Linked DNA regions of Homo sapiens. The protein of the gene in region 4 interacts with the protein of the main gene of each other region in a pairwise test. Each region holds a gene or a part of one and is shown on either strand. Other genes may lie near its edges. The genes, in order: CPAP, CCDC33, PDGFB and BCCIP.

Region 1 (8,913 bases), on a different chromosome or scaffold from region 4:
TGTCCATAGACCCTTCTATTACCATCCAGGTTCAAAGCCATAAAAAATTACAAGCACTTGTCTTTAGCTTTATCTGAGTAATGCAATGAGAGACTGACCAATCACCAATTTAGGTGTGTTTTATCTCACAGATTATCTAAATTTACAAAGAGATGATATCAATTCAAAGCCTGATACTGAACCTGTGACATGGATATTTTTTAATCTTTTTTTTTTTCCTTGAGACAGGGTCTCACTGTCACCCAGGCTGGAGTGCAGTGGCATGATCACGGCTCAGTGGAGCCTCTACCACCCAGGCCCCAGTGATCCTCCCACCTCAAGCCTCCGGAGTAGCCAGGACCATAGGCATATACCACAACACCCAGCTCATCTTTTAATTTTTTGTAAAGAGTGGTCCCCCTGTGTTGCCCATGCTGGTCTCAAACTCCTGGGCTCAAGCCATTCTCCCACCTTGGCTTCCCAAAGTGCTGGGATTACAGGCGTGAGCCCCTGCGCCCAGTATTTTATGTCTGACAGAAGAATTTTAGCTAGATATGAAAACATTACTTTTTTTCTTTTTTTCTGAGACAGGGTCTCACAATGTCACCCAGGCTGAAGTGCATTGGCACAATCACGGCTCACGGCAGCTTCAACCTCCAGTGCTTAGGTGATCCTCCCATCTCAGCCTCCAGAGTAGCTGGGCCTACAGGTATGTGTCACCATGCCCAGCTTATTTTTTATTTTTTAATTTTTTTGTAGAAACAGGGTGTCCCTATGTTGCCCAGGCTGATCTTGAACTCCTAGGCTCAAGCCATCCTCCTGCTTCGGCCTCCCAAAGTGCTGGTATTACAGGTGTGAGTCACTGCGCCCAGCCTAAAAATCAGTTTCTATCATGACAGATGGTGTCATTCTATAAGGCAAAAAATCTGAATTTAATGGGATTTTACAACAAGAGACTGCTGTTTCCCTCGCTGATTCATTCCCCTGTATAATACACATTGAAAATTCTTGTGTTTGGTTTTCTGAAGCATAATCCACGAATAGTATCATGAATATAGTTGTTACAATTGTTCAGTATGTACAAATGCTATCAACTGCCAGTTTATAGAACTGTTAAAAGACATAGAAGACAGTGAACATAATGATACTGTGTTTTTGCCATCGCTCCCTGGTTGAGTTGTAGAAGAGTTGTATAAAGGCTTACTGTACCATTAATTGCAACTGAAGATTTTCTTGGAACAAGATGATTGCCTGCCAACCATTTAATAACCAAAAACAAAAATGCCAATGTGATGTACATTTTCTCACTGTATCACACTTTGAGAACCACAGCTATTCAGGCATTTAAAAAAACAAAAATTGCTGCCACAGGCAGTAACAAAAATAAATAATGATGTGTGAACATCAGACAAATATGATTCCTTTTTTTTTTTTTTTTTTTGAGATGGAGTCTCACTCTGTTGCCCAGGCTAGAGTGCAGTGGTGTGATCTTGGCTCACTGCAACCTCAGCCTCCCGGGTTCAAGCGATTCACCCACCTCAGCCTCCAGAGTAGCTGGGACTACAAGCATGCACCACCATACCTGGCTTTTTTTTTTTTTTGTATTTTTAGTAGAGACGGGGTTTCACTATGTTAGTCAGGTTGTTCTCAAACTCCTGACCTCAAGTGATCCACCTGGCTTAGCCTCCCAAAATGCTGGGATTACAGGCATGAGCCACCGCACCTGGCCCATGTTTCCATGTATATGAAGCTGAAGAACAGGCAAAATAAACCCATAGTTATAAATGGCATATTGGTCGTTATCCAGGAAAATGGGAGTTGTCCTGTCTGTGTGAAAGTTGATCATACAAATTGAGTCATTCTTATAGCCAACTAAACAATCAAGAAGTCAAGAGGGAAAGGCACTCAGGACACACAACTTTGCTCCAAGAATGGAATTCTCTATAAGTCAGTATGCTGAAACTGCCGGTTGTAACCCGAGACCAATTTGATCTATAGATGCTGAGGTAACTTGCTGCAATTGTAGGACTAATTTTGCCCTCCACCATGGCCCACTCGGTAGGACCTGCTGCCTCCCCAGAACCTTAGGAGAACCAATGAACTTTCTCGAAGAGCGACAGATATAACAATTCTCTTTTTTATAAAACCTCCAGCTTTCTCTTTGTTCTTTGGACATACTGAAGACCACCTGGTCTGTACGCCTGGAACCGCCATTCTTTCTTCCCAAATAAAACGTTAAACTTAAGAGATTCATCTCCAAATTTTTGACTTCAACAACTGGGAAGGTTAATACAGGGGGTGGATACACTTAGGCTGTACACTTAAGATTAGCGCACTTTACTGGATATCTGTTATTCCTGAATAATTTGTAAAAACTTTTTCTAAGCAAATTGTTTTTCAGTAGGAAACCAATCTAAAAAAGTAATGACTTTTTTTTTTTCAAAATCAACCACGTAACTTTGCTTAATTTCAATGACCTTAGCAGAAAATCTTTCGAAATCCAAATTCAGAAGGGAGACAAACTACAAGGTCATTTCATAATATGGAAAACTAGAAAAATTCCCTACTAGACTGACAAGTGCAAGCAGTCTTGGGATGCAGCAGCCAGACTTTTGCATCTCCTCCTCCAACTCCCCACCAAACACACCTTCTATACCTTCAATTTCATGACCGCGATTCTAAAAATATATTTAATGTCAGCATGAAGTATAAAAAAAGCGTCACCAGAACCTGCTACTTATTATTGATACTGAGGTCTTGGTAAAGGGAGCATTGATAATATATATGCCGAGATAGGATTAGTATGTGGACTCAGACTTTACAGATATCAAAATCTGAAGGACACGGGTGCACGTGTATGTCAAACTCATCAAATGGAATGCATTTAAACATGTGCCATTTTTATTGTATAGCAATTATACCTCAATAAAACTTTTAAAAAATGTAACAAACTGACAGCCTTGAAATCTCCAGAAAGTGCTATGTAAACATTCTTTAAAGCAGTATTGAAAAAAAGATAAATTCTCTGCACGGTGAGGGAGGAGAGTGGATACAAACAGCAAATTCAAAGCCACTCTTAGACCGTGAGAAGTAACTAGTTGGTCTGGGAAGTGATTTAGCAGTCCCCTAAAATACAACACGTTCTTGAAAGCCATGAATCCACACGAAGCTTCAAGAGAGAAGCCCTTGACAAAGCTGGGGCAAGACCGGCCCTTAGGACAGCCAGCAACGCTACTTCACCACCCTGCTCCAGCGGACTGCGGCTGCCGCGCTGCCCACAGGAACTCAAGTTCCGCCACAGCCAGGTCAGAGAGACAGACACCCCAGAGAGGCCGGCTTCCCCAGCTCTGCGAAGAACAAAGCAGCGCGAATGAACGAAGCCACTGAACTGCCGTGGGCCTCAGCGCGCCCGTGGGCCTGAGCGCGTCCCGGCGCCCCGCTCCCTCCTCGCCCCGCCGAGCCAACCCCGAGGTCCGAGCAGAGTCCTGCCCGCCCACCGCCGTCCATCTCCGGCGCAGGGCGGCGGACAAAGAGCTCCTCCGCTCTTTTCGCCCACAAATTACCGCTCCGTGAAGCCTGGGCAGCTCAGCAGCACGAACCGACACCTCAATCTCCGCAGCATTTACAAATGGGCCGCCACAATCGCCGCCTCTGTCGGAGCCCCGCCCCCGTCCCGAGGTCCTGTGGGAAGTGAGGATCTCACCCGCGCGTCTGCGCTAAAGCGCAGGCACCGCTGAGCCCAGTGAAACTACAACTCCCAGTGACGCCACAGCGACGGGCGTTGCCCGGCGGGGGATGGACTGCGCGCCGCCTTCCGACCAGCAGCGGGCCAGTGGTCGACGTAGGCGGGCGGCGTGGCGGGGCGGAAAACCGTTTCCGGGAGAGACCTTCCGTGGTGGACGTCGCCCCAGGCTCCCACACTTAGAAAACTAAAGGGAACGCCTAACGGAGCGATGGATCTCCGTGTTCCCAGCAAAGCAGGGAGCACGGAGAGTCAAAGCTAACATAGAGCCCAACCGACGCTTAAAGGAGGTGTTTTGGGTTTTGTTTTTTTTTTTTCTATTTGCGTACGGTCTATTTTGTCGTTTTTTTGGTTTGGTTTGGTTTTTTTCTTTGTTTTCCGCTTTGGCTGAGGTGACTTAGTAAAGGAGAAAAAGGGCAGTCCGCTACACCATTTCGTAAGACGAAAATAACCCTATGAGAATTCACTCCAAAAATAGGCATCTTTCATCTCTCCTCAAATGGCTAATCGGTGGTTTGGCAGAGTGTGTCCATTAGATTCTGAAACTAGTTTGAATACTGACAGTGCAGAATTCAAGAAATTTTTTTGTTTTGTTTCGTTTTAACTGCCACGGCCCTTTAATCTAGGAAGTTACAGCACCGTGAGTTACCACAGTACTACATACCTGGCTTCCATGTCTGATTAAACAGCAGGCCAAGTAAAATGTTTAAAGAAATCAAATGAAGTGCCATTTATAACCGTTATAACTGAAACAAACGACTGCTAAAGACAAAACTATTTCACAGAAATTTGGTCCTCCAAAATTTGTTTTGCTTTCTACTTCAAAAAGAGTCTACTTCTCTAAATCAAGATTTCGGTTTTGCTTCTTTTTTCAATTTTTCTTTTCTTTTTTTAATTTTTATTTTTTGAGATGGAGTCTCGCTCTGTTGCCCAGGCTGGAGTACAATGGCGCGATCTCCGCTCACTGCAAGCTCTGCCTGCCGGGTTCACGCCATTCTCCTGCCTCAGCCTCCCGAGTAGCTGGGATTACAGGCGCCCGCCACCACGCCTGGCTAATTTTTTTATTTTTATTTTTAGTAGAGAAGGGGTTTCACCGTGTTAGCCAGGATGGTCTTGATCTTCTGACCTCGTGATCCGCCCGCCTCGGCCTCCCAAAGTGCTGGAATTACAGGCGTGAGCCACCGCGCCCGGCCCAATTTTTCTTTTTAATTTTCACTGTGGGTGAGGAAGCTAAAGCCCGAGACTTCCGAGATCACACAGCTACTTAAGATGCCAGACAAGGACCCAAACAATCTTCCTTTTCATTTATGATAGCCCTTTGGCTTGAAAGCATGCCCAAAAGTCTCATCATTCTTCCTAAAATGTGTATCTTTAAGGATAGTCGCAATATCCTCTATTTTTGTGCCTATATTTTATTCGTATGTTTTTATTTTAATATAGTATGTAGTGCCACATTGTTTGTTGATTGAATAAATAAATGAATCTTTTACCACACTCAAGTCTTAACTGGCTGTTAAATTAAGGTTATAATGTGTAAGTTTTCACCTGTAGCCCATGTAATTCTCAAAACTGCCCACTAAGCTTCAAGGGTTCAAATCCATTACAAGGTGGAAAGGCTAGTGGGGAGGAACTTCCATCTTCTACTCTGCCAGACAATAAAATGTTCTACCTTATCAGTGGTTCCTATCCTTGTTGCATCTTCAGATGGTGCTGTAGAGAAAAATTAGACTAACGGTTGTGGCACAGGGGTTTTAATGCCAGATTACCCGTTCTGATACAATTCTTTATGCCATCATAGGAGTCAAGAGGGCACTCCTATGTCATGGTTAAGAGTCCAGGATTTATCAGGCAGACCTGGGATCAAATCCTAGCTTGATAACTTACAAACAGCTTTGTAGTCTTCAGCACTCAACTTTTCTGAAACCAGTCTTCTCATCTGCAAAACAGGGGTGGATAATAATGAGACCTTCATAGGACTGTCAAGAAGATTACATTAAAAGAAAGACTATGTATGAAAAAGTAGCAAAAAACCTCCACATAGTAAAAAGTCAATGAACAGGAGGTGTTTTCATCTTTATAAAGAATTTAACTGTTGGTGAACTCTTGTCTACCAAAGCCTAGCTCTGTGGGTCTTGTCAAATGCTGTGCCAGACACAGAATAATACTTATTGTATTCCCAAATTATTTGGAAATAATTCTTTTTCATTATTTATTTTTTTGGAGACAGGGGTCTCACTCTGTTGCCCAGGCTGGTCTCTAACTCGTAGGCTCAAGCAGTCCTCTCACCTTGGCCTCTGAAAGTGCTGGAATTACAGGCATGAGCCACTGTGCTTGGCTGGTAATAATTCTTTTAATCAAAGTTGATCTGAGTGACAAAGAGTTGACAGCTTTTCATTGCTGGTCTGATGGTAGCAAGTGTCCACTCTATCCAGAGAGGACATGTCAGGTGCAGTGGCTCACACCTGTAATCCCAGCACTTTGGGAGACTGAAGCGGATAATTTGAGCCTAGACGTTTGAACGTTAGCCAGGTATGATGGTGTGCACCTGTAGCCCTACATACTTGGGAGGCTGAGGCAGGAGGATCACTTCAGCCCAGGAGTTGAAGGTTATGATCACACCACGAGACTACAGCCAGGGCAACAGAGTGAAACCGCCAACTCTTAAAAAGAAAAAAAGTGGGGGAGGACATCAGGGCTAGCCTGGCCAAGGAATGATTCCTATAGATCAGTCAGAGTGGTGGGAGAAACTATAGGGAAAGGAGCAGACCTTCTGAAAAGTCGGAAGCCTCTGCATAGCCTCCAGGGAGAATAAGCTGAAGGCAGCTGTTTTCTGACCCTGAGGCAGAGGGCAAGGAGTAGGTACCAGGAAGCATAGGGGAATTTATCGTAAATAGGCTTGTTTACTTACATTGACCAGGAGCTGACCTTTGATCATCCACATGCGTGACCCGTTCCCTGAAAGGGGAACAATAATGTTAATTACCCACAGATTGTTTTTGCTCCAGGCTTTCAGCATTATGTCTATACTGAATAAAAGCAAGCAGCTCCAGCTGTTTGCCTGCTCACTCTTTGGCCGCTAGTGCCAAGCAGTCCCCTAGCTGCTCTTACACTGCATATCTGCGTCTGAGTACTCGTTTCATCCATCGTCCAGCCAGGGTCTGTGGGACAGACCCAGCAACTGGTGCCCTGTGTGAGGAATGCTGCAACAGATCACGATGGAACCCCCAAAAATGAGGTGAAGAGACTGTGCGGGAAGTAAGTAATTGGTGCCCACTCAGGATTTCCAAGTTTGAGGGAATTTTCAACCTAGGGTTTCATCATGGGACAACAGTTATCAGCTCAACAGCAACACTATATGTAAGTATTGAAACAGCTGCTTAAAGCTAGCAGAGCCTGGGTCTCGGAGGCTCAGTTAAGGGGCCTAATGCAAACTGTTGTTTTCAATAACCCATGGTTCCCAGAAGAAGGCACGTTAGACCAAGAACTCTGGGAGCAAGTGAGGGGAAATCTTAAATAACATCATGCACAAGGGAAACGGGTCCCAGTAACATCTTTAACGTTATGGGCCTTAATCAGGGCTGCTTTGGCCCCACTCTACACAAAAGAGCCTAAAAAGGAAAGGGAAGAGGAACCATCCACCTACCTGACCGCCTCCTCCTCCCTCAGCCCCACTGTTACTAGGTAAAGGTGCCACAGAGGAGACAGAGTTTCCCTGAGCCCCCTCCTCCAATAAATTGGAAAAAAAGACAAGGGATACACTACAGTTACGGGACCCTGTCTTAGGCAAGTGGCATTAGAAGGGGAGCTCTTGGCCTGCCCTGTGATGCAAGATCAACACGGCAATCAGGTATATGAGCCCATCACTTTCAACACCTATAAAGAGATAAGAAAAAGCATTAGAGAAAACAGAGCTGCTAGCCCATCTACAAAAGGATTAATTGAGGCCATAGCAGACAACTTCCTTATGATCCCATGGGACAGGTCAGTGCTAGCTCAAACAACTTTAGAGGCCAGTCAATACCTCCTCTGGATGGCAGAATATGATGAGTTGTGTGAATGACAAACCAACCAGAATCAATTGGCTGGGTAAAACATATGGGTCACTCAGAAACAGAAAATTGTCGGCACTGGAGAAGTGCACACAGCCAAGCAGAGTGCACGCCCTCTAAAGTCACGATTTGGAGGGAAGAAAAGCAACTATACAACCTCTAATCATGCCCATCCCTGTTCATCTTTGGGAATGGGACCTTATTAGCCCAATGGGGGGGTCACTATGCAGAGCCCTTTCTAATAGTGGCCACTGTTGTAAGTCCTCCCCTACCCCTGACATGGCTGTCTCAAGATCCAATTTGGGTAGAACGGTGACCTTTAAAGGGAGAGAAATTACAACAAACCCATGAATTAATTGAGGAACAATTAAAAGCCAGCCATATAGAACCAGCAGACAGCCCTTGGAATTCACCCATTTTTTGTCATTCCCATAAAGTCTGGTAAATGGAGAGTTCTGCATGACTTACAGGCTATCAATGCTAATTTGCAACCTATGGGGCCCCTTCCACAGGGGCTCCCTTCCCCCCGCAGTGATTCCTCGAGTTTTGAGTCATTATTGACTTAAAAGACTGCTTTCATACTATTCTCCTTGCAAAACAGGACAGAGAAAAATTTACGTTTACAATACCAGCTATCAATAATGAAGGCCCAGCTCCCTGATTTCACTGGAAAGTACTTCCCCAAGGAATGCTGAACAGTCCTACCATGTGTCAGTATCGTGTAAATAAGGCTTTGCTCCCCAGTAGAAAAGAATTTCCTAATTGCAAGATAATCCATTATATGGATGACATCTTACTGGCAGCCCCAACGGAGCCAATACTTTTGAATTTATATGCCTCTGTCAAAAAGAATACACAGTTAACAGGCTTAATCATAGCACCTGAAAAGGTACAGATGTCCTCTCCTTGGAAATATCTTGGATATATACTAACATCCCAGTCAGTAAGACCTCAGAAGGTTAAATCGAATACTAACAACAGGCTTGTTTACTTATGTTGACCAGGAGCTGACCGTTGATCATTCACACACGTGACCCCTTCCCTGAAGGGGGAACAATAATGTTAATTACCTGCAGATTGTGTTTTCTCCAGGCTTTCAGCATTATGTCTGTACTGAATAAAAACAGGCAGCTCCAGCTGTTC
Region 2 (8,717 bases), on a different chromosome or scaffold from region 4:
AGGCGTGAGCCACTGCGCCCGGCCCGATATCTTTTCAAAATACTGATTTTGTTTCCTTTGGATATATACCCAGTAGTGAGATTGCGGGATCATATGGTAGTTTTATTTTCAATTTCTTGAGGAACCTCCGTGCTGTGCTCCATAATGGCTGCACCATTTTACTGCGTATTCCCACCAACAGTGTACAAGCGTTCTCTTTTCTCCACACCCGCACCAACACTTATCTCTTGTGTTTTTGAGAACAGCCATCCTAACAGGTGTGAGGTGCTATCTCCTTGTGGCTTTGATTTGCACTTCCCTGATGATTAGCGATGTGCACCTTTTCATGTGCCTGTTGGCCATTTGTATTTCTTTGTTGGAAAAATGTCTATTCGGGTCTTTTTCTCATTTTTTAAATTGGGTTACTTGTCTTTTTGCTATTGAGTTGTATGAGTTACTCATATATTTTGGATATTAACTCCTTATCCGATACATGTTTTGCAAATATTTTCTCCCATACCATAGGCTGCCTTTTTGTTTTGTGGATTATTCCCTTTGCTGCGCAGAAGCTTTTCAGTTTGATGCAGTCTCACTTATTTTTGATTCTGTTGCCTGTACTTCCGGTGTCATATCCGAAGATTAATTGCCAAGACCAATGTAAAGGAGCCTTTCCCCTGTGTTTTCTTCTAGGGGTGTTACAGTTGCAGGTCTTACATTGAAGTCTTCACAAATACATATTTTTAAAAAGCATTGAAATATTCATCATGAACAAAACGAAAACTTTCATGAACTTTCTTATGCCTATTGTGTGCTTTGTTACTTGTTTATTTGTAATCAGATGTGCAGGGATATAAATTCTTTCCAGGTTCTATGGCCTCTGAGGGTCTGGATCCTCCCTCTGGGGTTTCTGCCTGGGGCTGGGGGTGAGCACTGAAAGCCCCCTTCAGGTCCTGACAGCTCGGCCTTCACATTCTCAGAAGCCCTTCCTTCTCCCATCATTTGCATCTCATTAGCACCACCTCGAGCTGGTGGCAGCTTCGCCTGTCTGGAGCCCTGGGACGCAGGCTGCAGCCTGGCCCGGGCGCTGCTCCCAGCTGGAGAAGGGTGCAGCGAAGTGCTTTCCCCTCCCCCCTCCCCGCGTTCTCTGTCCCCACCCTCCCGCCCCACGTGCCGCAGCCACAGGGAGGGTGCAGGAGGACTCGGGGTGTGCCCGGCTCTCCGAACCCCCACCCAGGCTCGTGTCGCCTAGGCTCCTGCCGCGCGTTCCCATGGCAACCGGGTGATGGCGCGGGTCGCGGTGCCTGCCTAGGAGCCACACAGCCACCCAGCTCCCCGCCCCGCCGCCCAGGCCGGATTGGTGACAGTCAGGGCCTCAATCTCCCGAGATGATCGGCGATAATTGGTTTATGGAAATAGCTGAGCGGAGAAGGCGAGCTCCCCGCTAGAAACCAGCCTCCCTGCCAAGCCTGCTCCCACCACCTGTGCTTCCCTCACCACGGAAATGGAGTTGGGGGAGGGATGGCCGAGGAGCTGGGCTGGCACAAATGGGGCTTTTAAGGCAAGTGTTTCACCTGTTGCTCTCGGCACAGCTTCTACCCCCCTTTCACAGTGGGGGCCCTGGGGGGGCAGGGACTTATCATAGTAACCAGGTGTTGGCCTCAGTCACTCCTTGGCTCCTAAGTTTGGGCTCAGGCCTATGTTGGATGCATTGTTGAGGGAAATGGAGGAGGAGATCCGTCCTCAGGGAGCCCCAGAGGAGTGCATAAACCATGTTGATATAAAGTGCTTCAGACCAGGGTCACCACTGCTGTGGAGCTCCAGAAGAGGGAGAGCTCAACTCTGGTGGCTGCCTGGAGGAGGAGGCTTTGAAGGCAGGATTTCAGCAGGCATTGGTGAGTGGGCTGGGGCAGGCACTCCCCAAAAGGAAATGTGGGCAACAGACTCTTGGCAGGAACTGAATGGTGCCAGTATTGGTGGGGGAGGGGAAGTATAGGGTGGCTTGGTGGGAGGCCACCAAGGCTCCCGCCGTCTGTCTATAGAAGGTCTAGGGGTGACATGCTCCTTGGAGGGTGCTTTATAATAAAGATTGAGCAAATATTCAGTGTCCCCAGCGAAGGTTGGCTGGATGGAGATTGTGTTGCCCCTTGGCGCCTTTCTGGAAGAAGTGAGACCCGTGAGGTGGGCATAGACGTGGCGTGGCAGGCCTTGGTGCCAGGCTGGGGAAGTGTGTACCCTGACAGCAGCTGGCTGGAGGGGGTGTGTGGGGTGCATTAAAGGCCCAGAACTAGGGGAGTCCCCATAATAGAAGTGACTGGAGAAGGAGGGGAGGAGGGGAGGGTGGTTATGAGGACCCTACCCCAGGGCTGGGTATGGTGGGGTGGGGCACCCAGAAGTCAGGAGAGGCAGGTCCCAAATCTTCCCCTTCCCCAATCTGACCATCATGCCCATGAGCCCAGCCCAGACTTTTGCATACAAGGAACCTGCCCCACTGGAGCTGAGCTGTGACCAATCCCTGCCCCACTGGTGTGGGGTGGGGAGGGGTGACTCTCTGGATCCGTTGGCACCCTGTCTTCCCCAGCCCTGGTGAGCAGCTTCCCATGCAGCAGCGGAGATGCCAGGTAGTGCCCACAGCAGCTCCTCCCCTCTGGGTATGACAGTCCCAGTCCTGGGCCTTTGGGTGCTAGTATTCCAAATAGCTGTCCCCTGGTTTCTGCTCACAGCCCAACCCATCCCCTGCCCCCACTCTCACGCAGCTACTTACACCACCACATAGGGCCACGGCTCGGAGCCATCCTTGCAGGCAGGCAGGTTGGTAGCCCCATGGAGGGTGACCATGATGGTCTCCTTCTTAGAGGGAGACAGGTGACCGATCTCAGGTTCCGTGCTCTGGGAGGCGATCAGGGGCTCCTCTGGGTCTTCAGTGTTCTGTGGGGAGAGCCAGGGCTGAGTGTTTTTTTTTTTTTTTGAGACAGAGTCTTGCTCTGTTGCCCAGGCTGGAGTGCAGTGGTGCCATCTTGGCTCACTGCAGCCTCTACCTCCCAGGTTCAAGCAATTCTCCTGCCTCAGCCTCCACAGTAGCTGGGATTACAGGCATGTGCCACCACATCCAACTAATTTTTGTATTTTTAGTAGAGACGGGATTTCCCCATGGTCTCAAACTCCTGACCTCAGGTGATCTGCCTGCCTCGGCCTCCCAGAGTGCTGGGATTATAGGCATGAGTTACTGCACCTGGCCCTGAGTGGCCTCCTCTGCTGCGGCACCTCCCTTCACTGCCACCCTCTAGCACTAGCCACTCACAGCTTCCGTCAAGTGCCTGCCTCCCTCTGTCACCCTTCCGCCCACTCTGCAAGGCAGTCGCCTTGGCCCCATTTTCTCCCTACTTCTGTCCCCATCCCACGTCTCTCTCAGTGCCTCTCCTCTAGTCCTGGATCCTACCCTTCCTGCAGGATGAGACAGGCCACCTCACCTTTCAAGTCTGGTCCCACTTCTAAGCCTTAGCTTTCGCAGGTGTCCTCGTCTGTAATTCCTAAATCCCACCTGCTTTTGCAGTCCTAACAATGGGCCACCTTCTTCAGTCTATCTTGTAACCTCACCTCAGCTCACCCATCACCTCAGGTCCCTCCTGTGCACAGCACTTTACAGCTGACAAAGCTTCTCCACGTTCATGGGGGCATTCAGTGCATTACGTGGAGGTGAATGCATGTGTCTGTCCCAGATGCCCCACCTGTCTTCTACCCAGGAAACTTGCGGACTAGGGAGGAAGAGGTGCCTGCCCATGCAGGGGGCTTCCTACACCAGTTGCCCCAAGCAGGGACTCAGCAGCTTAGTAACTTGTGGATTCATGGCCCAAAGGACCATCTTAACGAGAGCTGCTGAGAGAAGACAAAGCCCTGGCCGGCTGAGGCGGTCAGGGAAGACAGCAGGGAGGAGGAGGCCTTAAAGGGTTGGGAGAAGGTGCAGGAGTGGAGTCAGGGAGGACAGGCCAGGAGCAGAACACTGGAGCGAAGGCAGCAAGCGGGAAGGGGCAGAGCTTTCCAAGGCCCAGAGGTGGCTCAGTTTGACTGGGGAGGCAGTGGGGACTCAGAGAAGACGGCAGAGCTGGGCATATAAACGCGGTGGGGTGGGGAGGGGTGTGGCCATGAGGCTGCTGTGGCTCAGGGGTGTCCTTGTCCTCCCTGGCCCTGGTCCTCCACTGGCCGGCTGGCTGACTCACCACTTCCAGTTAATCTGACACAGATTAACCCTTGATAGGCCTCCCGTGGTAGGAGGTCTTGCCTACCCTTTGTCCCTCCAGCTGATATGAGGGGCCATAGAGGGGCACTCCTGGCTCTGGGAGAGGAGCAATGGACCTCCTCAGGGTGGAGGCAGGGCCCTGAGGGGCCACTGGCAGGCTGTTCCTCATCTCTGGAAAGCTCAGCCTGTCAGACCCTGCATTCCAGGGCAGGCCCTGGTTGGGTGGGGTTGAGAACAATGTCCTATTACATAGAGAGGAAATTGAGGCCCAGACAGGAGCAAGGACCTGGGCCCTGGACGGGCTCTGGTTTTGGTGGCAGCCTCGGCAGGCTGGGTCCTTGGCTCAGAATGGCCGGCTCCTGAGGAGCCCTGAGTGTCAGGAGAGGTAGGTTTAAACCAGCTCTGCCTCTCACCATGCTGGGCCCCAAAGCCAGCCATGTTCTGAGAGTCAGTTTCCCCAGTGGGGAGATGAGGACTTGGACCGACCTATCTGGAAGCTGCTCTGCTCCTACCTTGAGCCTTGGCTCCTGGAAGCCTCAGGCAGACAGAAAGAAAAGGGCACAGTGCCTGAGGCTCTGCTCTGCCCCGAGGAGTTTTAGGAACGTTATTTCATCCATTTCTCACGGTAGCGTGGGGTGCCCACCAATCGGAGCCACACACCCCCTCAACAGCTCCCCTTGGGGGTCTACTGGCCTCTCAAAGCTAACGAACTCTGGACTCCCCTTCAAACCCCTCCTCCTGCTGTCTGCCCCAACTCGTTAATGAGTTAATGGCGATGCCATTGTTCTAGTTGTTCAAGCCCCACATCTTGGAGTCCTTCCTGATTCTTCCCTCTCTTCCTCTACATCCCTTATCCAGTTCTTCAGCAGATCCTGTCAGCTCCACCTTCAAACTATATCTGGACTCTGACCCTTCTCAGCATCCTCAGGTCAGCACTCAGGTCCCAGACACCTGTATGTCCCGACTCGCCTCTGATGGAGTTCTGTTTCCTCTCCGACTCTCCGTCCACCCCATCCAATCGCCAGAGTGAGCCTTTACAGATTGGACCCAGACCCTCTCTCTCCTCTGCTCAGAACCCTGAAGTAGCTTGCTGCTTCTCTCAGAGCCTTGCAATGGCCCGTGGGGCCCTCCAGGAGCTGGCCCAGAAAACTGACCTCATCTTGTCCCACGGGCCCTGTGGGTCACTCCGCTCCAGCCACACTGGCCTCCTGGCTGTTTCTCACACCTACCAAGCTCCCTCCTGCCTCCCCGCCTCTGCCCTAGCTGTTTCCTCTGCTCCACCCTGGGTGTCACTCCAGAACTGTCATCCCTGTGCCTTGCTCCCCTACTTCCCTTGGCTTGCCTGGTGCAGGCTGTGGTCCTTGCCTAGCAAGATGGCTAATTAGGAGGTGAGAATACATGCCCCCCAGATCAGAAGTGCCAGTCCTGCAGAGAGGCCCCCCTCTCCTTCCTCTGACTGAGGAGGCCACCCCCACCCTCTTCCAGGACCCAGCAGGGCCTGTCACCATCTACAGAGGTGTTGATGAGGGTTGCCCCTCCTTCTCTCCCCCATGCTCCTGTCAGGGGAGAATGAGGGGAGGGGAAGATGCCCCTGCCTGGAGGTGAAGGAGGAGGAGCAGCCAGAGTGCTGTTCCCTGCCCTCCTGGGTAGGCAGCTTCCTCCCATATCCACCCTCATGCAGGCCACCATGACCCCCCCACTCCCCAGCAGCCTTGCTCTCCTGGTTTAGTGGCACAGGAGTAAGGCTGGCAGCCTCAGGGCAAAAAGACCTAGGTTTCAACTTGGCCGGGTGTGGTGGCTCACGCCTGTAATCCCAGCACTTTGGGAGGCCGAGGCGGGCAAATCACTGGAGGCTGGGAGATCGAGACCAGCCGGGCCAACATGGTGAAACCCCATCTCTACTAAAAATACAAAAATCAGCCAGGTGCGGTGGCATGAGGCTGTAATCCCAGCTATTCGGGAGGCTGAGGCAGAAGAATTGCTTGAACCTAGGAGGCGGAGGTTGCAGTGAGCCAAGATGGTACTCCAGCCTGGGTGATAGAGTGAGACTCCAACAACAACAACAAAAAAAAGACCTAGGTTTCAGCTCAGCTCTGGCCCTACCTCTCTGTACCACCTCCCTGAGCCTTGATTTTCCCACCTGGCCAATGGGAATGTCTGGAATAGTTTGTGATTCAGCCTTTCCAGTGGTTACTGTGCCTGAAGTTCCTGCAGTGAGGCTGGGAGGGGTGATTCATGTTCCTAGATGGATTCACCTTGCTGTGAGGGCACAGGGCCTCTCATGAGCTCCCTAGGGCCATGAAAGGGAGGGCCCAGGAGTAAGACCATTGTCCAGGGGCTCTCATTGGCTCCCTGGCAGCCCCAGAGCCCAACTAGGCATCTGCAGACCTGGCCAGGAGTCACACCGGCTCCTCCTCTATCTCCCCTGCACCTCCCCTCGGGGACAGCCTTCCCTTCTGGGAATAAAGCTTGCAGGAAGTTTGGCGAGAACTATTGTGTTTCAGTTCTGGGCATGAGGCCAACTGCCAGGCTGGCGCCTCCTGGTGAGGCTTGCAGGCATGTGCCCGCTGGGCAGGCTGGGCCCAGGGCCAGGGAGGCTTGGGGCCAAGGGTAAGGCCAGAAGGGGGATGGTGGGCCAGGGCTGCTAACCTCCTGCTATCCCTTTTTTATTCCCATGTCTGGATGGGAATCTGCAGGCTTCCCTCAGAGATGTCCTGCATCAGAACCAATGTCCTCGACCCATCTGTTACCCCTGGCCTGCACTAGAGGATTGATGAGGGAACAGAAAATGCATATACTGGGTTACATGAGTGGTAGGGAACTGGGGGTGATGGGGTACCCCCCCCGTAACTCTCAGTTTGCACAAACTCATCTGTAGGGGTGTGGTGAGCCCTGGGGAGGGAATTCATGCCTCCTCTTGGCTGGGAGCAAAGCTGGATGCTCACCATCAGCTTCTCAGGCTCCCTCTCACTTAACCCACCCAACACTGCTAGGGTGCAGAGATCAGCAGGCAGCTTTTCCAGGCAGGGGTTTGGCCAGTTTACCTGCCCAAGGCCACACAGCCAGTGGATGAGAGGCTGGGCTGTGAGCACCGAAGCAAGCCTGATTCCAAAGCTCAGCACTCTCAGCTACTCCACTGGGCCTGGCAAGATTGGAAGCTGCTAACTCCAGTGCCCTTATCCAAACAGACAGGCAGCCTTGCCCTCAATAGGCCAGGATTAGCCAGCAGATGTTGCAGGGGAACTAGGACTGCCCATCACTTAGGGCATTTTTGGATCCATGTGCTGGGGGGAAGGGCTAGGGTGAGAGGAGGAGGTAGGAACAACAGGGAGTTAATGGTCCTTGAATTCAGCTCCCGCGGGTGGGTTGGGGGGTGCTTAACTTGGTTCTGGTGGGGAGAGAGATGGAAGGAGACAAACTCTTCCACCCACTCCTCCCTATCCTCCAGCAGCCTGGGAGGCCTGAGGAGCTGAGCCCAGTTCTGCCCTCTAGAAGGGCCGTGTGTCTGAAAAGTCACACTAGCTGGAGCGGGGCTGGGCTGGGAGGCAGGGTGCCTGGCTGCCCGGATCTGTCATTTGGGCAAGTTACTTGACTGCAGTGGGGCTATTTCCCAGCAGTTTCACAAGGACTTTCAGTTAAAAATGGTCCCCCATGTTCCTTCTAGTTTCAACATCTAAACTTGCCTGAGAGTTATGGCGGCCAGGGGAAAGCTCTTTCACAGGTGAGGAAGCACACTCAGAGAAAGTAAACCTCTTGTATGAAAGCACACAGCTTAGCTAGTGAGGCCAGGGCTGGAACTGGAAGCTGGGTCTGTCTGACCCCACACTCTTGCTGTCTCTGCTGTGCTCTAACCATGCTTCCTTGGATGTGGATCCCTTCTCTGCTCCACAGTGGATGCCCCCCTGAACTCATAATCTGAGTATCCATTGGTGGCAGCAAGAGGAATTATGTTCTTTGGAGCAGAGAAGCATTCCAAAAGATGACACAAAAGTCAGAAATCATTAAAAAGGGATAGGTTTGATTACATTTTAAAAATCTATACTAACTTCTATAATGGTCCAAAATGCCCTGCAATACAAAGAAAAGAAAAAAAGGAGAAAATGTTTGCTGCATATTTAAAAAAGGATTAATATCCCTAGTATACAAAGAGCACTGAAACCTATAAACATTATCCAATTTAAAAAACATGAACTGGGGATTCACAAAAGAAGAAACACAAATATGTATTATATATACATGATGAGCATCCTTTTTTTTTTTTTTTTTGAGATGGAGTTTTGCTCTTTGTTGCTCAGGCTGGAGTGCTGTGGTGCTATCTCGGCTCACTGCAACCTCCGCCTCCTGGGTTCAAGCAATTCTCCTGTCTCAGCCTCCCGAGTAGCTGGGATTACAGGTGCCCGCTACCACGCCTGGTTAATTTTTGTATTTTTAGTACAGACGGGGTTTCACCATGTTGGCCAGACTGGTCTCGAACTTCTGCCTTGGCCTCCCAAAGTGCTGGGAT
Region 3 (8,717 bases), on a different chromosome or scaffold from region 4:
CAGTGGAGTTAAAAATAACCCTTCCCCTTTGCTACTGTAAGTGAACCCTCCTCGGCCTCCAGGGCGGGGCCGGGACCTAGGGCACTGAAGGCCAGTTTCCAGTGCCCCTCCACCCAGCGTTCCCATAGGAAGTGCTGAATGGAGAAATTCCCAGAAGCCCCAGGGGGACCGCATGCCCTGAACACAGCCCCTCTGGAGCCCCGGACAATGGCCGCGCTGGGCAGGCGGGAGCCACGGAGGGAGGGAGGGAGGGAGAGGGATGGGGGTGGGAGCTGAAGACAGAGAAGAGGAGAAGAGGGGTGGGAGTTGGGCCTGCTGGGGGTGGGGAGTCCCTGCCACACACCCTTCTAGGGCCTGGTCTCTCTAGCTCCGGGGCCCTCACACCGTATCTGTATCTGTGTCTGTCTCCCTCCCCTTCTCTAAACTGTTGCCCCACCTCTGCCCCCAGCCGTCTGTTGATTCCTCTGGTCACAAATGACAGCTCCCTTTTCTAGCCTGGGCACCATCTCAGTCCCATCAGCCCTCCTTGGAGACATCGGTCCTTTCCAGAGCCCATGGCCAGAGGTTGGCTGCTGGGAAGTGAGGGCTGAGGGAGGCCTCTGAGCTGGATGTTAAGGCGTGGACAGACCCTTCTGTCTCTCTCATGGGTGAGGAGCCACAAATAAACTAAGGGGCATTGGGAACACGCTCCTGCCACCTCCACACAGCACCCCATGGCTCCAGTTCTGGCACCGACCCACTGGCCCCATCCAAGACAAAGGCGCCTGCCGCCTGTCCGTCCCGGGTACTGCAGGGAGTCTGATGACTAGTCCGCTTCCGTCCAGCCTGACAGCCCCTACGTCAACGAGCCTATCTGTCCCTCTGGCTCCTTTCCTTTCTCCCTGCCATCTCTGGAATGTCCCTGGTGGGGAGGAGATGGGGAAAAGATGCGCTTTGTGGAAAGGTTAAGTTGATTAGGAAAAAATAGCCACATGGTTGCCTTGAAACAGGCCTGCTATTGAAACCTCATCTCCAAGATCCCGACCCCCACCAGGGGTGTGGAGGGGCCGTCTGAGGGTGGGGGTGTAAAGGCTTGGAAAGAAATGGTAGAAAGGCTAAATTTGGAAGTTGCCCCATTGTGTGTGGCCAGGGGCGGCCAGTCGGGCATAGGGTGGGGGTTGTGGGAGACATCGGGTGGGGGCCCTGGCGAACAATAGGTGGGCCCAGCTGGGGCCCCCTCCTGCCTGCCTCACCGCCCCCCAGCACAGGCGGGATTGAAAGGGCCCGGGAATGCTTTTGAGAGGGAGCCAGGGGCCCAACGGGGAGAGGAAACAAAGGCAGGAAATGCTGTTCCCCCGTAGATAGCGTCTGGGCAAGGATTACAAAGTGACAAAGAGACAGAACCCCAGAGGGAAGGGGACCTGGGGGTGCAGGGGGGCTGCTGACCAGGGCTCCAGGGAACAGGCCAGAGGTTAGAATAGAATGGAATTTGCTCTGAAGACAGCGTTTATAAATACATTGTCAATCCAGCCCGCCAGCCCCGCCACGTGTGTGCCACCGAGCACGTGCCCATTCGCTGAGTGAGCTCTGGGGCACGGGCAGGGCTGCCTGCTGGTCGAGGCCAGGTGTCCCCAGGGGACCTCACAGACCGGGCCCCTAGCCAGAGGGGCGGGGAGATGACTCCTCCAGTGCCACCCTCCCTGGCTGGGCCCACACCTGGAGACATACTCGGCAGATGCCCTGGGCACCTTCTCCCCGCCCTCCCTCCTCCTGGCACCCCACCCTTGGCACCAAGCCGGAGCCACACGTGGGTGCTTCTCCTGCCACACCCCAAGTCCCAGGTACCAACCCGCCTGCTGACTCGGCCCTGCCCTGGATGGGTGTGGCCACGCTCTCTCTGGGCTGCCATGGGCCTCTAGTTCTCCAGACGTCAAGAAGGAGGGATGCCTCCTGTCCTGCCCCTCCCAGATCTCTTAAAGTCTCCTCGGAGGGCCGGAGCGCGGGGCGAGGATTCCATTTACCTCCGGGGTCTCCGTGCAGCAGGCGTTGGAGATCATCAAAGGAGCGGATCGAGTGGTCACTCAGCATCTCATAAAGCTCCTCGGGAATGGGGTCCCCCTGCCGGGCAGACACCAAAAGGCTGAGTGAGCTGGGAGTGGGGGCTTTCCAGCATGGCTGTCTCCCCCACCACACGCTTTCTCGCTTTCTCCTGTGGAAAGCTCCAAGGTCACAGGGAGACGGACAGGCAGGATCCAGGCCTGATGATCAGGAGCACAAAGGCCTCGGGGCCTGGACCTGCCGAAGCCTCTGAGACCCAGCTCAGTCCCTGCACCCTCAACCCCCAACAGGAACCCCAGCTTGCTTTGAGTTGGACCTGCTTGTCTCTATGTCTGTCTCCCCCACCAAACTACATGTTCTGGGAATGCACCAAAATCTGATTTCTCCCTGAGTCTCACAACACACCTGACAGCTGAAGACAGCCAGCATCTCCCATGGCCAATCTAACCCCCATTTTACAGAGGGGAAAACAAACGTTCAAAGAGAGGCTCAATTATTGGCAAAAGCTGCATTCAAACCCATGCCTTTGGGATGACAGAGCCTGTACTCCCAGGCTCCTGGGTACAAGAGGTGCTTAATAAACGCGTGCAGAGTGCGATGGCCTCAGGAGGCCCCAGGTCCTAGCGGTATCTATGAAGTCTCTCACTCGAAAGAGGCGAAAAGGGAATCCTCGGACACGGCCGGGAAACCTGAAAGCTTACCCGTGCCCTGTGCCCAACCAAACCCTATTTTTAGAGCCCCTTTGGCCTGTTGCCAAACATACTCGAAACCTGATAACACTTCAACAGGCCTCATTCGGAGCTGGGCTTCCTCCAGGGAAACCGCAGGTCCCACAATGACACAAGAGCAGCCCCGTAGGAAGGTCACAGCCACGTCCCCCACAGTCCCAGGAGACCCAAGGGGCGGATGCCAGAGATCCCAAGAAAGAGGCGAGGGCAGATGGGAGACTGAGAATCACAATCCAGACCACCAGCCACTGAGAAGCAAAGAAAATTCCTAAGATGTCGCTGCACGTTCAAAGGCTGGAACCGGACTTCCACGTGTGCAAACACACACGTGCAGGCACAGGCACTCGGGCTGCACGGTCTGGACAGACAGTCCTGGAGAGGGCATCAATAGGCTTGGCACATTACTATAGAACCTTGGGTTAAACTATTTTCTGCCTCAGTTTCCCTGGATTAAGAAGGGAGGACTTCCCTTCTTGGTTCGCTCCACATTCCCGGAGCCGAAGGTCGGGGGGCTCAGAGGGGGTCGGTGCAGGCTACCTTCACAAAAGGGATGCTGCTTTCTCGCTGCCTGACGGCGGAGGGGGAGCGAGGGAGAGGAGAAGAGGTCGTCTCAGCCCTGTGGCCAGCCTCAGGGGGCTCTCCCCGAAAGCTCTGTTTCCTCCAGCTTATCATGAGGTCTAGCAACACCTCCAGGGGTTCATCCATGACCAACTCTGGCCACCCACATCGATCCAGGAGCCAGAAGACTCAGGGCGGGGGGTGGGGGTGACCACTTTTAAAGCTACATCATTCCCTGAAACCCCTGAGTCTCCATGTCTTTGTTTGAACATGGAGCTTACAACTCCGCCCAATGTCTAAGGGCTGCTGGGCAACTTGAGGAAAAAAAGGTGGCAGGGCTTGGCTGAGAACTAGGGTCTTTCCTTCAATATCCGGGCAGCCAGGGGCTGCACGTGCAAGACAGAGGAGGGTATGGGCCCCGCTGCCCCTCACTTTCGGCCCCATCTCCTCCGGGCTCTGCCTCCTCCCGCCCTCAAGCAAGTTCATTCTTTCCACCTCAGAAGAGAGACCACGCCTCCGGTGCTCTCCAAATGTTGACAAAGTACCCAACCCACAGAACAGAGGGCTTGGTCTCCAGTGAACACCAGCGAAAGCCGCTTCCCCTGAGAGTTCTGTCAAACCCAGAACTGGCAGGCCAGAGAGCTGAATCCCACGCCTTTGGACCAACTGCCGTGTGACCTCGGCTGGTCACTGCCCCTATGGTCCTGGCTCTCATCTGTGAATCGAGGGGCTTGAAGAACATTCGATTCAATTCTAATTCTGCCAGGAGGCGTTAGAAGGGGCAGAGAAAACGCCAAAGCCGGGTGCCTAGCCAGGCCTCCCTGGATCACTGGCAGAAGGAGAACAAGAAGCGTTTGTGGAGTAAAGATTCAATTAACCCCCCAGGGGAGGGGCCCAAAGGCCTAGTAGCAAATGGCATTTAGTGCTTGTGCCAAGATCTCCCTGCCCACTGGAGAGCCGGCTGCAGCTGCCAGCCACGGCAGAGGAGGCAGACCCCTGAACAGGCCGAGTGGACACCCCAGATCCAGGCCCACGACACATAGGAGATGCCCCTCCAAGGCTGAGTGTGAAAGAGCCCAGGATAGGGTCTGAGGAGGAGAGAGAGGCACATAGTAGGTCCTCGGTAAATACTGGTCAAATGCATGAAGGAGTCTACCATTTTCCAGGTTCTGTCCAGTATGATTCTTCTGCCTCCTCCACCAGGAGGGCCACCTGGGATATTCTTCCCCAACCCTAGGCAAATGAGCAACTAGAGTCCCTTTTAATCTGAGCAGGGAGACCGTCCCTGAAGATGCTTTTGGTAATGTGGCCACTAGATGCCCAGAACTACCCATAAGCCCCCGGATTTGGTAATAATACCACAACTAACATCTATGAATGCCAGCTACAAGCCACACGCTGAGAAAAACACCGTATAAACTACCAATCCTAAGAGGCTGGCAGTATTTGTATCCCCATCCTCCAGATGAGAACACTGAAGCTTAGAAAAAATTAAACAAGCAGCAACAGGTCCAGACAATTAGCAAGTGGCAGAGCTGGGTCGTTCCCAGGCTCCAGACTGCCCACCTGTTCCAGCCCACCATGGGGCGTCTCAGCCTCCCTCTCCTGTGTTCTAAGGCCACTGGCCCTCAGCATCACACAAGGTTCGTGTTGGCTCTTTACTCTGCAGCATGTCCCACGTCAGAGGCTCTCAACCAGGGCCCAGTGGGCCCCCAGGGGACAGTGGCAATGTATGAAGGCATCGCTGGTGGCCACAACTTGGGGTGTGCACTGCATCTTAAGTTGGGGGAGGCCGGGGATGCCGCTCACCACCCTTCAGGGCACAGGACGGCCTTCCCAAACATCAGGAGTGCAGAGGCTGAGAAACCCTGTAGCGGAGGAAAGAGCAAGGGCTCCAGATGCCAGGGCAACCTGGATTCTTGGAATCTTGTCACAATCTAAAACCTCGGCTTCTGCATCTTTTAAATGGGGCTAATAATACCTCGCCCGGGGTTACTGGGAGGCATAATTGCACAGAGCAGAGCTGCCAGCAGATAATGGGAGCTTAATGAGTTGTCACTGTCATCATCATTAATTCTTTCCGGATGGCTCCTTTGTGGGCAGCAGCGAGTGGCACACGTGCTCAGGGCCAGCAGCACAGGACATTTTTGAGGATGACAAGGAGTGGGTGGAGAGCTGCCTGCCCATGAAAGAGTGCGTGACTTTGCATTATCCCTTGTGCTGGGCCACAGGAAATGGTACCCTACCTCCACACTGGCAGAGCCTGGGCCGTGTGGGCTTACAAGGCCCTTCCGGGGCTGGGGGTGGGTGAGGGTGGGGGGACACTCAGCACGTGCTCAGCTCCAGGATGCAATGCTCTGGGGATGACGAGCATGAGCACCTGTTGGGAGTCACAGGCTCTTCTTGGTATGGGAAGGTGAGCCGCCCGGAGCCTGGTTTTCCTGGGCACAGGTTCCGCAGGCCTCCAGGTGGACAGCTCACTTCAGAGATGGGAAAGGAGGCCTGGCACCCTGAAGAAGCTGTCCCAAGATCTCAGGCCCGGGGTTTCTGGCAGAGTGAGGGCGTGGCGAGGAGGCAGCTGGGGCAAAGCCAGCCGTGGGAGCCAAGGTAAACAGCCTCCTCCGACCCCGCCCCCAGCGCCAGCTGCAGCAGGTAGGAAGGGCACGAGCGAGCGTGAGGCCAGGTGAGTGATCTGCTCCCAACCAGGCTGGCAGATCAAAGGGGCTTGAACCCCACCCTCCTCCTGGGCCCAGCACACACACACAGATACACACTCCCCGGCCCGCCTGCCATTCCCACCAAGGGACACACAGGCCCAAGCAACCAGGGGCGTTGTCTGTGGCTGGCAGAGGAAGAAGCTGATGAGGCCTCCCAGAGCCTGCCTGCCTGAGAGTCGCAGGCCTTATTTAGATCGAATGCCAAAGCCAACCAACCCCTTTGAAGAAGCCCTCTCGGGGCAAACCACAGAAGCCATTAGAACCAGTGTTTCCCACCTAGCATTCCCCTTCTTTATTGCTCTTGGGACCCTCCCGCTCAGCCTCTGCTCCTTCACGTGGGCCCAGAACCCTGGCCTCCCCACCTCTTGCAGGAGCAGAGGAAAATTAAAGCAGGAAGAGAGGAACCAGTCCAGCCATTTATAATACTGGCAACCACGGCAATCACTGCCCATCCCCATCCCAGCCAGGGGACGGGGCCAGGGGATTCTGCCATTCTTTGGGAACTCTGCACTAATCCAATCTTCTCTCTCTCTTTTTTTTTTTAGGTGGCAGAAACTTAGCCCCAGCTAAAGATACACAGAACCTTTGCAGTCTGATTTTCTTTCTGTTTCTTCTCCTCTGTCCTGTCTAATCCTGGTAGCCCAAGTCCCAAGACAGAGGAGAGACAGACATGCTTCTCTCTCAAGATGGGGGGCTTTGAAAGACTGATGCCTACCAGAGGGCTGAAAAGGGGGGCTGCCCTCGGAGCAGAGCAAAGCGAGGACTCAGTGGGGCCATGGAGCAACAGGGGGCCAGGTCCTGCCCTCCCCACCAACCCAGCACTAACTGTTCTTTGCACTAATAGTTACTGATTGTCCACAGGGCTCTGGGCACTGTTCTAAAAGTGGGGACCAGGAGGAAAGCTCTCTAATGGGGTTGACACTCCAGTAGAGAAAGCAGGTAATAAACAATGAAATAAACCAGAACATAGGAAGAGTTGTCACAGAAGAGGCTCCTCAATGTGGGGAGGGGAAGACAAGACGTGGAGAGGTACTTACGAGGCCCATGATAAACATCTCACCATTCCTGCTCAGTCAGTCTCTCTCTCTCTCTCTCTCAGATGCGCACACACACACACACACACACTCTCTCTCTCTCTCTCTTCCTGGCTCTTGCACCAGATCCTCCAAATTCTGTTTGACCTGCCCTTGCACACCTCCAGGGCTCTGGGATTCCAGCAGTTGGTCTCCTGCCCCCTAGGGCCATTAGCAAAGCCAGAGGAAGCTGGATGGCAAAGGGCAGTGGGGCCCTTCACTCTTTCCCGGAAGAAGTGTGCTGAGGCCAGACGCGTCACGTGACAGTGGGACTCGCCCTCCTGGAAGCCAGCTCAGCTGGTGGAGATGGCACCTCAGAGGCCTCGGCAGGCCCTCCACCCAGCCCTGCCTCACGGCTGCCTGCCGTCTGCTGAAAGATTAGTCCGAGCACGACCAGGACGTGGACAGCTCCAAGGCCACCTCCACCAGCAGGCCTGCCCTGACTCTCCCAGCACTGGCCATTACAGCTCCTTCCTGGACTGACCCCTGCGTGGTTCCATCCCCATGCAGGTCCCCTCCCCCAGGGCCAGCCTGAGGCTCACTCAGGCTTAGCAGCAAAGTGCTTCATAAACTGCAAAGTGCCACATACATCGCGCCTGTGGCCATGTGTTCAAGAATGCTGTGACTAAAGTGAGGAGAAAGGCAGTTTCTGTGCCACAGCCTCCACCCCAGATACACGAGCCCGTGGAGCTGTGGGAAAGAAGGAGGAGGTGCTGGACGAAGCTGGAAATGGTAAGGGGAGGCTGGGGAAACATCCAGCTGTCAGCGGCCTCCCCGGGGCACGCTGGGATCAGCCAAGAGAATGCAACAGCCAGGGGTGGGAGCCCCCTCCGCGGTTGCACACGCCAGGTCCCTCCAGTCTTGCAGGTTCAAATGAAGGCTTATGTGAAGGGGGAATCGCTCTGGACAGCTCAGTGCCCCTCAGAGTCACATCACCACCATTTTCCACCACGCGGAGGTGGTTGAAAAAAAGGAGTCACAGATGGGTAAGGTTTGAGGGGCGTCGGGCTGACGAGGCAAAAAAAAAAGTAGGTGCTGTGGTGCTGATGGGAGGTTCTCCCTCCCTCACAGGACGCCAGGAAGGAAATGGGGCCGCTACAGAGGTGGTGAGGTGCCAGGGCCCACGGAGGGCCCACCTGTTGCGCGGGGGCGAGCACCAGGCGCTGGGTGCACGGGGGCCCGTGCGTGCCTGTGTACGTGCGTGGGTGTGCGCGCACGTGTGCTCAGGCCGCGCGTGCAGGGGCCGTGCGTGCGTTTGTGTGCGGTGCGCGCGCGTGTGTCCCGCGTGTGCACGGGCGTGGCAGAGGCGGGCGCGCGACCTGGCCGCGGTAGTGCGTGCCCGTCGCTCTGCGCGCCCGCCCGCCGGAGCGCAGCATCGCCTCCGGCCAGGAGTGTGCATGCGTGGGGTGAGTGAGCGAGTCGGGGGCCCGGGCGGGGTGGGCTGCGGAGAGCAGCCACGGGGCGCCGCCGTTCCCAGGACGCCCTGGCACCGGGCCCAGCCCCCAGGTCCCACGGCGAGGCGAGGCGGCAGCTGGGGCCGGCCGGCCACCCCCTCCCCAACAGCTGGCCGCGGCCCGGGGGGCTGCGGGAGAGGCGGAGAGGGG
Region 4 (5,223 bases):
AATGCAACAGGATTGGCTGCATAAAAAACAGAAAGTATTTATTTTACAAAGTCGGACTGAGATACTATCTGAGTTCAAATTAAATACCGGTTCTACAGGTAGATTCTCCAGGGATGGGAAGTGCCCAGACATAATGTTTGGTGTCTCTCACCACCTTCCCCACTCATAATCTCATCTTTTTGTCTTAAATAAACAGATTTATGCAGCTGGTACCACAATACTATTTCAGTAATCTGCCTCCTAGTGAAAGTAAGGACATTCTACAGCAAGTAGTGGATCACCTATCCCCTGTGTCAACAATGAATAAGGAACAGCAAATGTGTGAGACGTGCCCTGAAACTGAACAGAGATGCACTCTCCAGTGACTCCCCAGCAAACACAAGGTGCAGCAGGGTCCCAAAGGTAGCTGGATGGCTGAACTGCTGGATATGGGAGATACATGACGCGAAGACGGATTTCACATCCACAGGACGGTCTTGAAGAAAATAACACTGTGTATATTATTTTAAAATAAAAAATAGAAGTTTTTATTGAGTTCTTTAAATTACTACTCCATGCTTTTCTTCTTCTTGGAAAAGTTTTTAAATCAACCACTCATAATTTGACCAAAATTTTAAAAAACTGGTATTTTGTAAATGTGTCAGAGACACATGGGACAGAACCCTACTTTTTGTAGAGGAACTTAATCTGAATAAAGTCTGAGTTTTTCAGTAAATCTCCACTGAGTTTTCTGGTAATTTTACAAAAACAAGCCCATCACTGTCCATTGGAAATGGGTTAGACAGATAGATATTCTTTCAGTTTATCCATGATTTCGTTCATCTTGTCGCCTGGAATTAACATCACAGTTCGCAAGGGCGTCATTGGTACGTCATCAAAAGACCATTTGCCTCCCAGACAAGTGTCGCTCTCCTCCTGCACTGAGTAGTTGAACTTGAGAATTGCCTTCTAAACCAAATAAGTAACCATGAATTAAAAATCGGGACAACCCAAAGACAAAACCCATTTGATCTACGGCAAAGAATATTACGTTTGGCATATGCTTAAATAAGAATGAGAGCTAAAAAAAAGCAAAACTCAGAATTGAAAAAGTTCAAATGGGACATTCAGGCAGAAGTTATAAAACACAAACCAAGTAGATTTTAAACCCACATGAGGAACAGGGATAGAGGTGTGCAATTTCTAAGAGGTGAACAAGCAGCTAAGTGGTATTTTCATTTAATTGTCAAAATAATCTTGTGAAACATAATGAAATTAAGACTTGTAAAATTTGATATTTAACAAGAACTTGTCTTCAAACACTCTTTTCTCACTTTCTCAGCTGCTTCCTTAGCATCAGGCTTTTGTGTGAAGACAGAGTAAATCTGCATACCCCGCCATCTTAAAACACCCATACACACTCCCCCCAAATGGTCAACCTGAGGTGTTGAAGCATATGGTTTTGTTTTTTTTGTTTGTTTGTTTTTTTTTTTTGAGACAGAGTCTCACTCTGTCACCCAGGCTGGAGTGCAGTGGCGTGATCTCGGCTCACCGCAAGCTCTGCCTCCCGGGTTCACACCATTCTCCTGCCTCAGCCTCCCAAGTAGCTGGGACTACCGGTGCCCACCATTGTGCCTGGCTAATTTTTTGTATTTTTAGTAAAGACAGCGTTTCATCGTGTTAGCCAGGATGGTCTGATCTCCTGACCTCGTGATCCGCCCGCCTTGGCCTCCCAAAGTGCTGGGATTACAGGCATGAGCCACCGCACCCGGCCTATGTTTTTTAAAAATTATGTTTACTATTTACTTCCTGGAAAAGAAGGGCACAGCTAAATTTGTAGCGCTTTAGTCTTCTGCAGAAGTCTTCAAAGTGATGTGATATCATCCAATTCAGGAAAATATGTTCCCCTCAGAGATACACTTCAAGATTTTTTTTTTTCTGAGACAGAGTCTCGCTCTGTCGCCCAGGCTGGAGTGCAGTGGCGCAATCTCGGCTCACTGCAAGCTCCGCCTCCCGGGTTTATGCCATTCTCCTGCCTCAGCCTCCCGAGTAGCTGGGACTACAGGCACGTGCCACCACGCCCGGCTAATTTTTTGTATTTTTTAGTAGAGACGGGGTTTCACCATGTTAGCCAGGATGGTCTCGATCTCCTGACCTCGTGATCCACCCGCCTTGACCTCCCAAAGTGCTGGGATTACAGGCGTGAGCCACCGTGCCTGGCTCAAGATGTTTTTGTGTTTTTTGTTTGTTTGTTTGTTTTTGAGACGGAGTTTCTTCCTTGTTGCTCAGGCTGGAGTGCAGTGGCGCGATCTCGGCTCACTGCAGCCTCTGCCTCCCAGGTTCAAGCAATTTTCCTGCCTTAGCCTTCCGAGTAGCTGGGATTACAGGCATCTGCCACCATGCCCGGCTAATTTTTTTTTTTTTGTATTTTTAGTAGAGATGGGGTTTCTCCCTGTTGGCCAGGCTGGTCTTGAATTTCTGGCCTCAGGTGATCTGCCCGCCTCAGCTTCCCAAGGTGCTGGGATTACAGGTGTGCACCACCGCACCTGGCCCACTTCAAGATTTTTCAGAGGAAGAGAGGGTAAGAATATTCTCTGGTATATGGCTGTCCATCACAGTACAAGCTACCTTTATAGGAAAAAAATGCTGGAGATATCCCACCAGCAGGATGACATCCACGACTAAGGACACAGAGCAGCAGGGGTGCCCCAGCTTCCACACTGACCAGCTGTGTGATCGCAGGTAATTTCCCTCATTTCCCTATGCCTTAAAGTCCACATCTGTAAACCCCAGGCTAATGTCTACCTCTCCGCATGGTTTTAGAATGAAAGATTTCACAGGAAGCATATTATAAATGCCTAATCATTCTTAACAGGTTAATCACTTTTCTCCTCCTCCTCCTCATGCTCATAACCACAGTGCAGGCAAGGAGGCTGGTGCCTAGCCTCCTGAGTACCTACTATGCACCTGGCACTATGTTAGCTGCTAGGTCCTGTGGGGAAACAGAAAAACAGAGTAGCCACACTTGAAAGACTTGGACCTAAAGTGGGAGAACAATAAATCTTGATAAATCATTTTCAAGAAAATCCTTATTTACATCTAAACAAATAAGCAGGATAGTCTTACCTCATAGAAAAATTCTTCCTCTGCATTTGCAAACATTAACGCAGCTTTCTTTTTGTTGCTAGGTTTCTTTTTGGAATTGTTTTTTCCTGCTTCCACAAATGTCTTACTAATCAGAAGGTAAAAGTAGCACTTCCCACATGGCTTATTGGTTCTGTGTGCCCCCGCCAGTTCTTTCCTGCAAGGCACACACACAACATTTGTTTACCTGCTGGGTCAAGTGAAATCCATCAACAAACCAGAGCACAGAAAACCCGGTGAGGCATCTTCAGTGGGTTCTGCTGTGACGCAGGCATTCAATCTGAACACTTAGTCTACAGGAATGATTTTTATTTACATAATCAGTTGCATTTTAGATTATGTATTACTTTTTATAATACTATGATATATCTCTCAGATTATGCTGATTTGTGGATATATAGCAACTAACAGATCAGATGAGTCTCAAATTCACTCAATGTATCACTGCTCTGCCTGTGCATAAGTTAAAAATATATACGAATCTGAATTTTTGAATTTTTTAAAGCAATGAACATTTAACTGAAACACACAAAGGTATACAGCCACAACCAATGTCACTACAGCCTGTGACTACTACCACAGTCTCTAATTGCTAGAGTCTGGAACTAATTTCTGACATACTGCAGAAACTGCATAAACACACAACCTAAATTCTAGCAATGGAATCGCAACAAAGCCTTAATGTTTCTTCTTTCTGAAAATTAAACATAGCCTTGTGCATCTGGATGCCCTTGAACAAAAGAAGAAACTCAGAACAACCGTCCTCTTCAGCTTTCCTTTTTTTTTTTTTTCTTTTTTTCGTTTGGAGACAAAATCTCACTCTGTTGCCCAGGCTGTAGAGTACAATGGCACAATCTCGGCTCACTGCAACCTCTGCCTGCCAGGTTCACACGATTTTCGTGCCTAAGCCTCCTGAGTAGCTGGGATTACAGGTCTGCACCACCATACCCGGCTAATTTTTTGTGGGTGTATTTTTAGTAGAATTGGGGTTTCGCCATGTTGGCCAGGCTGGTCTCAAACTCCTAGCCTCAAGTGATCTGCCAGCTTCGGCCTCCCAAAGTGTTGGAATTACAAGTGTCAGCCACCACACCTGGCCTTTTCAAAAAAAAAAAAAGAAAAAAAAAAAGATAGGGTCTTGTAATTTTGCCCAGGCTGGCGTGCAGTGGCTATTCACAGGCACAATCATAGTATATTGCAGCCTGGAACTCCTGGCCTCAAGCATTCCCCCTGCCTCAGCCTCCTGAGTAGCTGCGACTACAGGCGTGCACCACTGCGCTTGGCTCACTTCAGCTTTAACAGGACTAGGAGAAAGCAAATCACCCTCCTATAAAACCAAATAAATGTGAGCTCCAGCTGATCAGAAAAAAAGAAAACCAAAAAAAAACAAAAACCACTTAAGGCACCAGAAGCACAATCTGAGCTACAGCTGAGAGAGCAGGGAGCAGGAGATAAGAAGCATCGAATCCCTAGGAAAAAACAGCAAACGTAAAGGTTTCCAGAGTAGAGTTGCATTCCTACAGCTATTTAAAGGAAAACCACAACGCAAGGGCTATGACCTCTGAGAAAGAATATTCTATAAAGAACCTGTCTAGGTCAAGTGCTGTGACTGACACCTGTAATCCCAACACTGGGAGGCCGAGGCAGGAAGATCACTTTAGCCTAGGAGTTCAAGACCAGCCTGGGCAATGTAGCAAGACCCTGTCTCTACCAAAAAAAAAAAAAAATTTAAATTAGATAGAAATAAATAAGAGAATCTGCCTATATTTTGTCCTCTGTTGCAAAGCACAGACAATACAATTCTTAGTACACTCAGTTTGCTAGATTTCACAGCTACATTTGAAATATTTTTGTAAACTTAAAACTTCTGGATTAAAAAATAGAATAACAAAAACCCTGAAAAGCTAGCCACAGTATCAGGACTATGGTTTCATTTGTTATGAAACATACCAATAGAATTTGGGAACTTTACCAGTTTTGTTATTGTTGTAATTGTTCATTATTTTATTCATGTTGCAGAAAGCTATCTGTGAAGGTGAAAAACTTCAATCAAATGGGGATGCAAAGTCTATATGAAATTATCTACTTATATATCACTTAAAT

What was found.
Region 1: the proteins of BCCIP (region 4) and CPAP interact in binary tests that used the Homo sapiens proteins (3 or more experiments, as listed by UniProt).
Region 2: the proteins of BCCIP (region 4) and CCDC33 interact in a two-hybrid assay, tested with the Homo sapiens proteins (3 studies listed by BioGRID and IntAct).
Region 3: the proteins of BCCIP (region 4) and PDGFB interact in binary tests that used the Homo sapiens proteins (3 or more experiments, as listed by UniProt).

The regions. Positions count from the first base shown.
Region 1 is NC_000013.11:24,919,219-24,928,131, forward strand, and holds the start of CPAP (centrosomal P4.1-associated protein), read right to left. Parts: upstream 3,644-8,913; 5' UTR 3,543-3,643; intron 1-3,542. UniProt on the Homo sapiens protein: Plays an important role in cell division and centrosome function by participating in centriole duplication. Inhibits microtubule nucleation from the centrosome. Involved in the regulation of slow processive growth of centriolar microtubules.
Region 2 is NC_000015.10:74,238,172-74,246,888, reverse strand, and holds part of CCDC33 (coiled-coil domain-containing protein 33), read right to left. Parts: intron 2,905-8,717; coding exon 2,741-2,904; intron 1-2,740.
Region 3 is NC_000022.11:39,233,778-39,242,494, forward strand, and holds part of PDGFB (platelet-derived growth factor subunit B isoform 1 preproprotein), read right to left. Parts: intron 7,351-8,717; exon of another isoform or gene 7,236-7,350; intron 7,133-7,235; exon of another isoform or gene 7,096-7,132; coding exon of another isoform or gene 7,078-7,095; intron 2,098-7,077; coding exon 2,001-2,097; intron 1-2,000. UniProt on the Homo sapiens protein: Growth factor that plays an essential role in the regulation of embryonic development, cell proliferation, cell migration, survival and chemotaxis. Potent mitogen for cells of mesenchymal origin.
Region 4 is NC_000010.11:125,831,829-125,837,051, reverse strand, and holds the end of BCCIP (BRCA2 and CDKN1A-interacting protein), read right to left. Parts: intron 3,281-5,223; coding exon 3,106-3,280; intron 949-3,105; coding exon 778-948; 3' UTR 501-777; downstream 1-500. Other genes in the region: putative pre-mRNA-splicing factor ATP-dependent RNA helicase DHX32, read left to right, coding at 197-365. UniProt on the Homo sapiens protein: During interphase, required for microtubule organizing and anchoring activities. During mitosis, required for the organization and stabilization of the spindle pole.